Linked DNA regions of Homo sapiens. The protein of the gene in region 2 purifies or fractionates together with the protein of the main gene of each other region. This does not show direct contact. Each region holds a gene or a part of one and is shown on either strand. Other genes may lie near its edges.

What was found.
Region 1: the proteins of SLC51B (region 2) and ODR4 purify together in Homo sapiens (affinity purification with mass spectrometry; one large-scale study listed by BioGRID and IntAct). This does not show direct contact.
Region 3: the proteins of SLC51B (region 2) and SLX9 purify together in Homo sapiens (affinity purification with mass spectrometry; one large-scale study listed by BioGRID and IntAct). This does not show direct contact.

What each region holds. Positions count from the first base shown.
Region 1 is NC_000001.11:186,385,717-186,389,448, reverse strand, and holds part of ODR4 (protein odr-4 homolog), read right to left. Parts: intron 3,462-3,732; coding exon 3,366-3,461; intron 1,008-3,365; coding exon 901-1,007; intron 1-900. UniProt on the Homo sapiens protein: May play a role in the trafficking of a subset of G-protein coupled receptors.
Region 2 is NC_000015.10:65,048,387-65,051,141, reverse strand, and holds part of SLC51B (organic solute transporter subunit beta), read right to left. Parts: intron 1,955-2,755; exon of another isoform or gene 1,246-1,954; 5' UTR 1,138-1,245; coding exon 1,041-1,137; exon of another isoform or gene 1-1,040.
Region 3 is NC_000021.9:44,970,968-44,974,421, reverse strand, and holds part of SLX9 (ribosome biogenesis protein SLX9 homolog), read right to left. Parts: intron 1,226-3,454; coding exon 1,157-1,225; intron 1-1,156. UniProt on the Homo sapiens protein: May be involved in ribosome biogenesis.

The DNA.
Region 1 (3,732 bases), on a different chromosome or scaffold from region 2:
TATATGTACATGTGTGCATATATATACATATGTGTATATATAATCATACATACAAACTGCTATCACTATAGTACTTGCGGTGCTTGAAAATCATTTCCTACCTTTTATGAATCCCGCTAATTGCAATAAATAGAATCAAAGCACTCGTGAGATTCTTCTCAAATATACACTCTCCATAAGAAAAAGTACCACTGTTTTATATGAGGTCAAACCTGAGACTATTTATTGGATTAAAGGGCTTGTATATGAAACTTTGCAGTTAAATACTAAAGATTTTTTTTGTTGTTGTTAAAAAAAAAAAAAGCCCTGCTTCTGCAGGAATGGTCACTTTTAAAATTCTGTCTTTGGAAGTCCATGGATCGTGTCACTCCTTTGGTGAGGATGACCCTTGCTTGGGAGGTACTCTTGCCCTGGTAAGAGGCCGTGTAACTGGCTTTTAGTGTCATTTCATCTTAGCCAAAGACATAAGAATTTCTCCGATGTCCTATACCATCCAGCTCTGTGCACCTGTGCTTTGAATTGTACATCCTTATCTATAGAAACTGGAGGTGAAAACTTTAACATAATAAAAACATTACTTTGCCTAAGCCATCAGTTAGGCATTTATCTCTGTAGGGAATCTGCTGTGCTTGGATGTACAGGGCAGATAGCTGGTAAAAAATTCAGAATCCTGAGTCTTTCATATTACAGATCTCAAGCTTTTTATCACCTTGGGACATGATTAACAACCATTATTGCTATTATTATTATTGGTGGCTCTAATTCCATGTTATTTACAGAAAAATCTTACAAAACTATGCCTATTTTTTAAATGATGATTTAAATAAATAGCAAAAAAACCTTGCAAGAATATTATTTTGGTACTTTGTACTTTTAAACCATAAACTGAACAAAAGATACTTTTTTGTAGAAGCACAAATGTGAAGTGTCACTCGTTCTGAGACTTCCTCCTCTGTGAAATTCCACAATCTCTTTCTATTTATAGACTTTTCCACAGCAAACATTAGCTGAAAGAGAGAAAAATACACACTAATTGAATGTAAAATGAAAAAAAAAGATGAGTGTTGAAATAGGCAATTATAATGTCCCCAACTCTCATTTAGCTTTAAAATTCCATGATTCTTTATTTATTGGAGAAGGGGTCTCACTATGTTGCTCAAGCTGGCCTTGAACACCTGGGCTCAAGTGATTCTCTCACCTCAGCTTCCCAAGTAACTGGGACTACAGGTGTGTGCCACCATTAATTTTTCTTTTCTTCAAATTAAAGACTGGAGCTAATTACTAACATTTTTGAATTCCTTTTAGGAAATTACAGAAAAATTGGGTTTAAATAAAAAAATTTAATTCACTATCATTAGAGATTAACTGGACACAAAAAATTAATTTGGGGCAACTAGAATTTATATAAACTATAGAACAGAGACTTTAATTAGAATGAGAAATGATAAGTGATTTTAACTAAAGAAATCAAGCATGTCACCCATTTAGCATTTCTTATTTAAACGTCACACAAGACTTAAGGCAATATATAACAACATATAAAATATAGTAATAACAAATTGAAAGTTAAAGTAGAATAGTGAGATAAATTTGTGTCAGAAATAAGAATTATAAAAATGCATACTTGATGTAAGGGGTGGTAATACATTTCGGTCTAAGCTTTCTAACAATAATGTGCAGAGAGAAATCTAATCTGTAACCTAATTCACATGGTCTGTAAGCTAAAAACAATCATCAGAGGAGGCACAACCTTCTTCATAATATAAAAAGAAATTCTTCCGGAAACACAATATTAATGTAATATGATGAATAAAGTCCTTAACAATAATGGGTGACACTGACAAGTTTTATAAGGCTGTTTCTTGTAGTGTTTGTCAGTGTAGCCAGTGGAAACAATTAGATAATTGAAACTCAGTAATGTCAGAGATAAAGCATTTCTAAAGTTTTATATACTTTTTAGGAACAAAAGATACAAAAGCAAGGAAAGTGGGCCTGGCTGTATCTCTCTAGCACTGGGCCCACATTCAACCCCCTCAATTCAGCACCAGCCAAAAAAGGTTGCACAATGAATGCTATTAATATTAAATACGCATAGATTTCGGTTAAATTTCAAAATGCCAAAGAGAATGAACAATTGTAAACAAGGTAAATTTATTTAAGATGGAAAAGTTGGCAGAGGGTTAAACAATTTAGCAGGGAGGAGAATATCTCCATTTTCTTCCCTTACTCCCTTAGGTGCAAATATCAAAGGCTTGAGGCTGGGACATCTGACAGGACAGGTTACAAGACTGAAAAAATCTGTAACATCTGAAGTTCTCAGCTGTATATTTTTTACCTAAAAAATGTTTTTCTGGGATACTGTTGGGGTTGGGTTTTATATGTCTCAAGATTTTAAGGTTCCCCCTCTTTTGGGGTATGAAATACCCTTCAAAAAGTTCATGTGGATCCTGAATGCTAAAAGAGCTGGCTACACAGAATCTACCTTAGGTTTGGGTTTAAGGGAAAACAGCATGTGGACCTTCATATTTACTTTTACACTATGTTACCCAATTCTCTGGTGCAGCAATTAAGCAAAAAACACAGGAGATTTCTGATAGATACTGTGTCCAGGAATAATCTGATTGTTTATGTTTTACTCTCAGGATCTCCGGAGAATTGAGAAGAAGGTAAAGAATTTCAGCACCTATTAATTTCATGTTACAGTAATCACTAGGTACTAAATGGAAGGTGTGACAGAATACTGCTATTGCATAAGAAAAACTGTTTAAAGCATTATAATTTGTTTCCTAATAGTCAGAAATTACCTCTAAAATAAAGATTATTTTAAAATATGTAGTTTTTCTGTCAAAAAGAATTACTTCCACAAAGATGCCTTTTTTACAACAAATTATTAGATCCAAGTGACTTTGAGTTCTTAATATTATAATTAATCATTTGAATTTTTCAATATTTTACAATGAATTATTTGTTTGCATAATTTACATGGAATTACTGTCATTAGTCATGGTTATTATTGAGAAGTAAATAATTTAACTTTTTAACTTGAGGAAAGAATAGCTTTTTCAAATTTGTATGAAATGCCATATGGGCTGATGATAGCCCTGTTTTGGGTAGTGTACTAAATAAAGAATAAAATTACCCATGGAAAAAATAATAAATAAAATGTGTAGTTTTTAAAAATATAAACATTTTTTACACTCAAGATATCCAAGCAATTGAGTGACAAAAGCTTTTTCAATGTAACCCCAACAAAAAGAATTATGGAAAACAAATGTAAATATGCCTAGAATCATTACACATACTCATAATCAGTAAAAATAACATATAACTGATTTCATTAAGAATTTTCGATATATCAAACTTACTCTACGCAGGGCATTTTGAAAATCATTTGCCAGTTCTAAAGTAGTAATAATAAATACTCCAAGAACTAAAAGTCCCCCTGGTAGCATTCTGGATACCTAAAAATAGAAATATATTATTAGCTAACAAATTGGCATTATATGCAATCCTTTCTGTTTGAGAAACTGTCTGCTTAGCATGTCCTTAGCTTTTCACCTTAAAACTACTTTATAAATAAAACTATCTGATAACAACATCCTTTAGCTACATCAATAAATAAATCCTTTTCTCAGGAGATCAAAGACTGAAATATTTTTTCAATGGCGTCCCACCATCAGCTAAATAAAATGAAGTTTTATTTTAGATTGATATTTCAGACTTTCTAGGATC
Region 2 (2,755 bases):
CTGGGCTCAGTGGCTCACGCCTATAATCCCAGCACTTTGGGAAGCCGAGTCAGGTGGATCACCTGAGGTCGGGAGTTCAAGACCAGCCTGGCCAACATGGTGAAATGCTGTCTCTACTAAAAATACAAAAATTAGCTGGGTGTGGTGGCATACACTGTAATCCCAGCTACTCAGGAGACTGAGGCATGAGAATCACTTGAATCCAGGAGGCAGAGCTTGCAGTGAGCCAAGATTGCACCACTGCACTCCAGCCTGGGCAACAGAGTGACCCTGCCTCAAAAAAAAGGCAAAAAAAAAAAAAAAAAGAAGAAGAAGAAGAAAGAAAAAAAAAGGAAAGAAAGAAGGCAGGGAGAAGGGTGGAAGGAATGGCAACTGCCCACAGATAATACATGAAGTGACTAAACTGAATGTGGCTACTCAAGATTTGTCCATGCTGTACCCAAATGAAGCAGGGTCCAGCCTCAGAGCTCTTGCATTTGCTGTCCTCCCTCCAGGAATGTTCCTCCCCCAAATAATTTGCATACCTAATTATTTCCTTAGTTTCCTGCAAGTCACCTTCCTGATGATAAAAATGTCACCTTTTTAGTGAGGCCTTCCTTGACCACATTACTGCCCTTGCTGCATACTTCCTATTCTCTTTCTCTGTTTAATTTTTCTTTTTATTACTCATCACCAACGCACTATGCGTTTTAGTTGTTTATTTTTAATCCCCACTAGAATGTACATTCCATGAAGGCAGAGATTTTTGTGTTTTATTCACTATTGTCGCCCCAGTGCTGAGAACAGTGTCTGGTACAGAGTAGGAGCTTAATAAATGTGATGATTGGAGGGCTGCATAAATAAGCGACCACACCCTGAGAAAAGGAAGGGGCGGTCCAGCCAGACCCCTCTGGGTACTGAGACACCCCGACTGATTCCCTGTCTTGGAGGAAATGTACCGCCTGACCTGGAGGGGACGACAGTGTCAGGACCTTCAGCCAAACTCTGCTCTGTGTTGAGGGGCACACCCCCACCCCTGCCGTCAATCTCTCACCACTTACCATCTTCCACACGAAAAAACCAAAGCATCTCTTCCAGCAGCTCCTGGGGTACCACAGTACCGGCTGGGTCTCCGGGAGCCCCCTCACTGTGCTCCATGCCCCTGCTCCTGGTAGCGTGTGCAACGAGGTCCTTAGACCCCTTAGCCCCAGCAGCCCTCCTGGCCTCCTCGGTTCTGGCCCCTGGGCAGAGAAGCCGTGAAGACCCCTGGAAACAAAGCAGACAGCATGACTGGATATCCCACCCGAGTTTGATCTCCCTCTGTGCCCAAATCCAGATCTCCTCTGGCCCAAAGTTATGGGACAAAAACGACCCGAACGAACCCAGGAGCACGTGGAGCCTGGAGGGGCAGAGACTGGAAGTGGGAGTGACTCAAATATTTATTAAAAGCCATCGCATGTGTGGAGGAGCACTGTTCTGGGAGTGAGGAGGACTGAGCCACTGGCGAGTTCTGGGACCCTTGCAAAGGACATCTCGGGTCTTCGCCTGCCTGTTCAGCGTCCGCACCTGGCTTCTACGAGCCCACAGCGCGCCCACGCGTTGCCATAGCAACTTGTCCCTTGGGTGTCATGCGGTAGCCAATCACAGGCCTGTGTTTCCCCACATGTCAAAGGCTGGGCCTATCACGCCTCTCTCCTGGGGATTGGCACGCCTACGACACAGAGAGGAGAAAAGGGAAAAGTGCCGGAGGGAAAGGCAGCTGCCGGCTCCTGATGCTGAGAGGGCACCCCCTGCCCCGACCCCGAGAGCTTTTTTTTTCTTTTTCTTTTTTTTTTGGACAAGTTAGCAGAATTGGTTTCTGTTATTTGCAAGGGAAGAACTTGAATCCATGCTCTCTGGATAAATCCCTTACTTCGTGTAGGCCTATTTCCATCCCAACTATTAATAATAAACTGAACCTCAGTCAATCTCAAAACAGTCAGACATTTTGACGTCTTCTTGTACTAACTGCATTATTACTACTTAATATAAAATTTTCTAGCATCCATACTTTACAAAACAAAAAGAAATAGGTAAAATTAATTTTGACAACATATATTATTCAGGCCAATATTAAAATTGTTAAGTTATTTCGCTTTTTTTTTTTTTTTTTTGAGACGGAGTCTCACTCTGTCGCCCAGGCTGGAGTGCAGTGGCACGATCTCTGCTCACTGCAACCTCCGCCTCCCAGGTTCAAGCGATTCTCCTGTCTCAGCCTCCTAAGTAGCTGGAATTACAGGCGCATGTCACTACCGCCCCACTAATTTTTGTATTTTTAGTAGAGATGGGGTTTCACCATGTTGGCCAGGCTGGTCTCGAACTCTTGACCTCAGGTGATCCACCCGCCTTGGCCTCCCAAAGTACTGGGATTACAGGAGTGAGCCACCGCGCCTGACCCAATAACACATTTTTTTAAAAGGACACGCATTAAACACATTAAGCTGTGTCTTGGGGAGGAGGAGGAAGGGAGTAGGAATGGAGATAAACGTAACTAAAATAAAACAAGAGAAGTGTTTTGAACAGATCAATTATAAAACATGCCATAGGGCACCAAGAAAAAAAGTGTACAGGGAGGATCGAAGCATTCTCAGGTCCCCTCACACTCTGTCACTGCCTTAGGTGCTCAACAATCTCAGCCCCAAATAGCCTTTGGACACTTAGCCAGGGGCATTCAAAAACAGCTAGATGGCAAACAGCCAGACAGAAAATTGGAGTATCAACAAAAGGACTAGCTTTA
Region 3 (3,454 bases), on a different chromosome or scaffold from region 2:
GCCCCTGAAGAAGGGCCGAGACAATAAAGAAATCTTTGGAGCTACCATTCGACACCAGCTTCCCAACATAACTGTACTCACAAAACAGACAGCAGCTTCTAAGCATAATCGAACTCACAAAACAGACTTCAGACTCTCAACTGGAAAGGCACAATGGGCCTCGGTAGAACTGACACAAAACGCTCCCACTGATAAACACCTGAGTAAAGCCATTTCAAACCACAGGAAAAATCATCCCAGCAGCTAACTAAAACCATCTTACAAGGGCGTAAAATGTGGCTCTCTCAGTGGAAACTGGAGCTGAGTCTGCAAAGAGGCAAGAGAGCGTGCGTGGTCTGGAGATTTTTGTACCCAAGAGGACAACTGAGTACAAATTTCTGCAAATCAGTGTCCTAGCCCTGCTAACTGGGGGCCGCAGTGCCCAGTCACAGAACCAAACGTATCATCCAGATTTCAACCAGCCAGCGGAGGGGAGGGGCGGAGATGGGGCTGCGTCCACCCATCATTTTAGATCCATGACTCCCCTTGGAAGCCTTCCTGGGAGGCGGGACTTGACCCAGGGCCACAGGACCTGACTGCACTGAAAAGCCCCCCTGGAGCAGACAGGCAGGAGCCAGCGGAGCAGCGTGGAGGGGACTAGAGGCACGGGCGGGGCTCTCAGCCGCTGAACCCCTGGGAGGGCAGGCTGGAGGCACTCAGGACCCCTGGAGAGGGCGGGGTGGGGGCACACAGGAGCTGAACCCCTGGAGAGGGTGGGCGGGGCGAGGGCACATAGGAGCTGAACCCCTGGAGAGGGTGGGCGGGGTGAGGGCACTCAGGAGCTGAATCCCTGGAGAGGGTGGGCGGGGCGAGGGCACATAGGAGCTGAACCCCTGGAGAGGGTGGGCGGGGTGAGGGCACTCAGGAGCTGAATCCCTGGAGAGGGTGGGCGGGGTGAGGGCACTCAGGAGCTGAACCCCTGGAGAGGGTGGGCGGGGTGAGGGCACATAGGAGCTGAACCCCTGGAGAGGGTGGGCGGGGTGAGGGCACTCAGGAGCTGAACCCCTGGAGAGGGTGGGCGGGGTGAGGGCACATAGGAGCTGAACCCCTGGAGAGGGTGGGCAGGGTGAGGGCACTCAGGAGCTGAACCCCTGAGGAGGTGGGCAGGTGCACTCACAGAAGCTGCTGTCTCTGGGCTGCGCTCATCCGGCTGAGCTCTGAGGGCCGGGGCTTGTTGCTCTCCCTGCTGTGGACACAGAGAAGCCACGTGAGTCAGCATCCAGCATCCCCTAAACACCTTCCCGTGGGCAGAGGCTGGCTCCTCCCTTCTTAGAGCAGACGTCGTGGTGGCCAGAGGTGACCAAACCACTGCAGAACCACAAGTTCCAAGCTGCACTGTGGCCATGGAGGCGAGACCTGGACAAGCAGTGCAACTGCCTGACCGTCCTGTGACCGCCCCGGACAAGCAGTGCAACTGCCTGACCGTCCTGTGACCGCGGGCCCCAAGCTGCTCCGTGTGGAATCTGGTGACTCCTGCAGCTCCTCCTGGCTCCATGGGACATGGAGGGAGTGGTCAGCCAGGAACACGTCTCACGATATACAGCGTCTCCACCCCACCTGCCTGGCCAGGGCAGGCTGCGCAGACACCTCACACTTCGGGCCAAAGGACCCTGGCAGGCACAGCCAGTCCCACTCCCGCAGTACACACCACTTCCCAGGAAGGCTGAGTCACCCACCCAAGCCTACATGTCCCCAGGTCCTCTCTTTAGAAGAAGGCGCACGCTGTGCTACAGTGGGAAGCTGCACCTGCCCTCCTGATGACTGAACTTGGGGACAGGGGCGTGGACCCACCGTAGATCCTGCCCTGCCTGCACCTGCGGGGGGTGCCAACGAGCACTGCAGTCCCCCATGGACAGGTGGAGGAACTGAGGAGGTTTCCTGAGTGCTGCTGGCTATTTCCTTTAGTCCTGGGATCTCCAAACCACCAAGCTGGGCCTTGACTAAGGGCACGGGCGGGCCAGGACACTCTCATCTCTGACGTCCACCCCAGGCAGGCTCCGGCTGCCCGCGGAGCTTCTCACCCTCAGTTAACCGTGGGAATCTTCGGGAGCTCGCCTGCACTCCTTGTGGTCAGCCGGCCAAGGCAGCCGCCCACCTGGCCGAATGTTCACATGGGACAGCGACCTGGGCCTTAAAAGGAACAGAGAACCCGCAAGGCCACACCAGGCGCCTTCTCAGATCTGCCGTCCACACAGTGAGATGGGACCCAGACGACGGCGGGAAGGCAGAGACGCAGAGTCCTCAGACCAGCCCTACACTTAGCCTCGGGCCAGGAGACTTCATCTTTTATTCATGGATCTCTTAAAATATGAATGACAGACATTTTGTGTCTGCCCAAAATAGCCCTCAGCACCCGCTTTCTTTTAACCCTAGCTCTGCGCTGATCTGGGGAAGGAATCAGTCCCCATCCCTTCCTGCTCACACTGGCAGATGACAGCCCCTCGCATCTCCCGTCCCCTCTGCCCGCTCAAAGCCACAGCTCCATTCATTGCAGGGGCTCTGCCGGGGCTGACGACATCTCCCCACGGCCTCTCCTGGGCCAGCCTTGCCCCGATGCAGAAGCTCTGCCCCCCTGGCCAGCCGACCCCCTCCCTGTGTCCACCCCTGAGCAGCAGCTCCCTCACTGACTGCCCAGAGCTGTCCCCGGTCCCCATCCTTGCAGAAGCCATCAGCGTGGGGCCCCTCCTCTAGGTGCACCCTGGTGCCAGGGCTCTGGGCAGCCACGTGCTGGGTCAGGAGACCTGAGCCCGGGTCCAGGACATCCTTCCTGGTTGGGGAAACCTCGGGCCCTGGAGCTGCACCCTCACTTTAAGAGATGAACTAGCAGTGGGGGTGGGACCAATGCCTCCCAAGGTCCCAAAGCAGAGGAGCTGCACCCAGGGTGGCTGCAGTGCCCATGAGGCCAGGCGCGGCACCTCCCCTCCCCACTGCGGGGACCGTCCCCCACCCACGCGTCCCACACCCCATCCTCCCAGGCGGGACGCACAGCCTACCCAGTGGGGTTTCCGGAGTTCAGGGCCCCGGGGACAGAGTGCTGGGCGGTTACCGTCATGGGCCAAGGGCAAGCACCGGCAGGGACGCGACTCCACGAGGCCTAACAGCAGGAAGCCGAGGAGGAATTGGAGCCTAACTCCGCCCAGTGTGGACCCTCACCAGCCCCCACGGCACTCCCTCCAGGCAGGAGCAGCGGCGTCACCACCACTCCCCTCCCGACAATCACCCACAAAGCGCACACAGGAGGCGGAGGTCCACAGCATGGGGGGTCCCCTCCCGACAACTGCCCACAAAGCGCACACAGGAGGTGGAGGTCCAGAGCATGGGGGTCACCGGAGTCAAGTGTCGCTCGATGCCTGCTTCCCAGCCAGGAGTGACGTGGACCCCAAACACGGGCCCTGCCCTGGCCTCTGAGATTCCA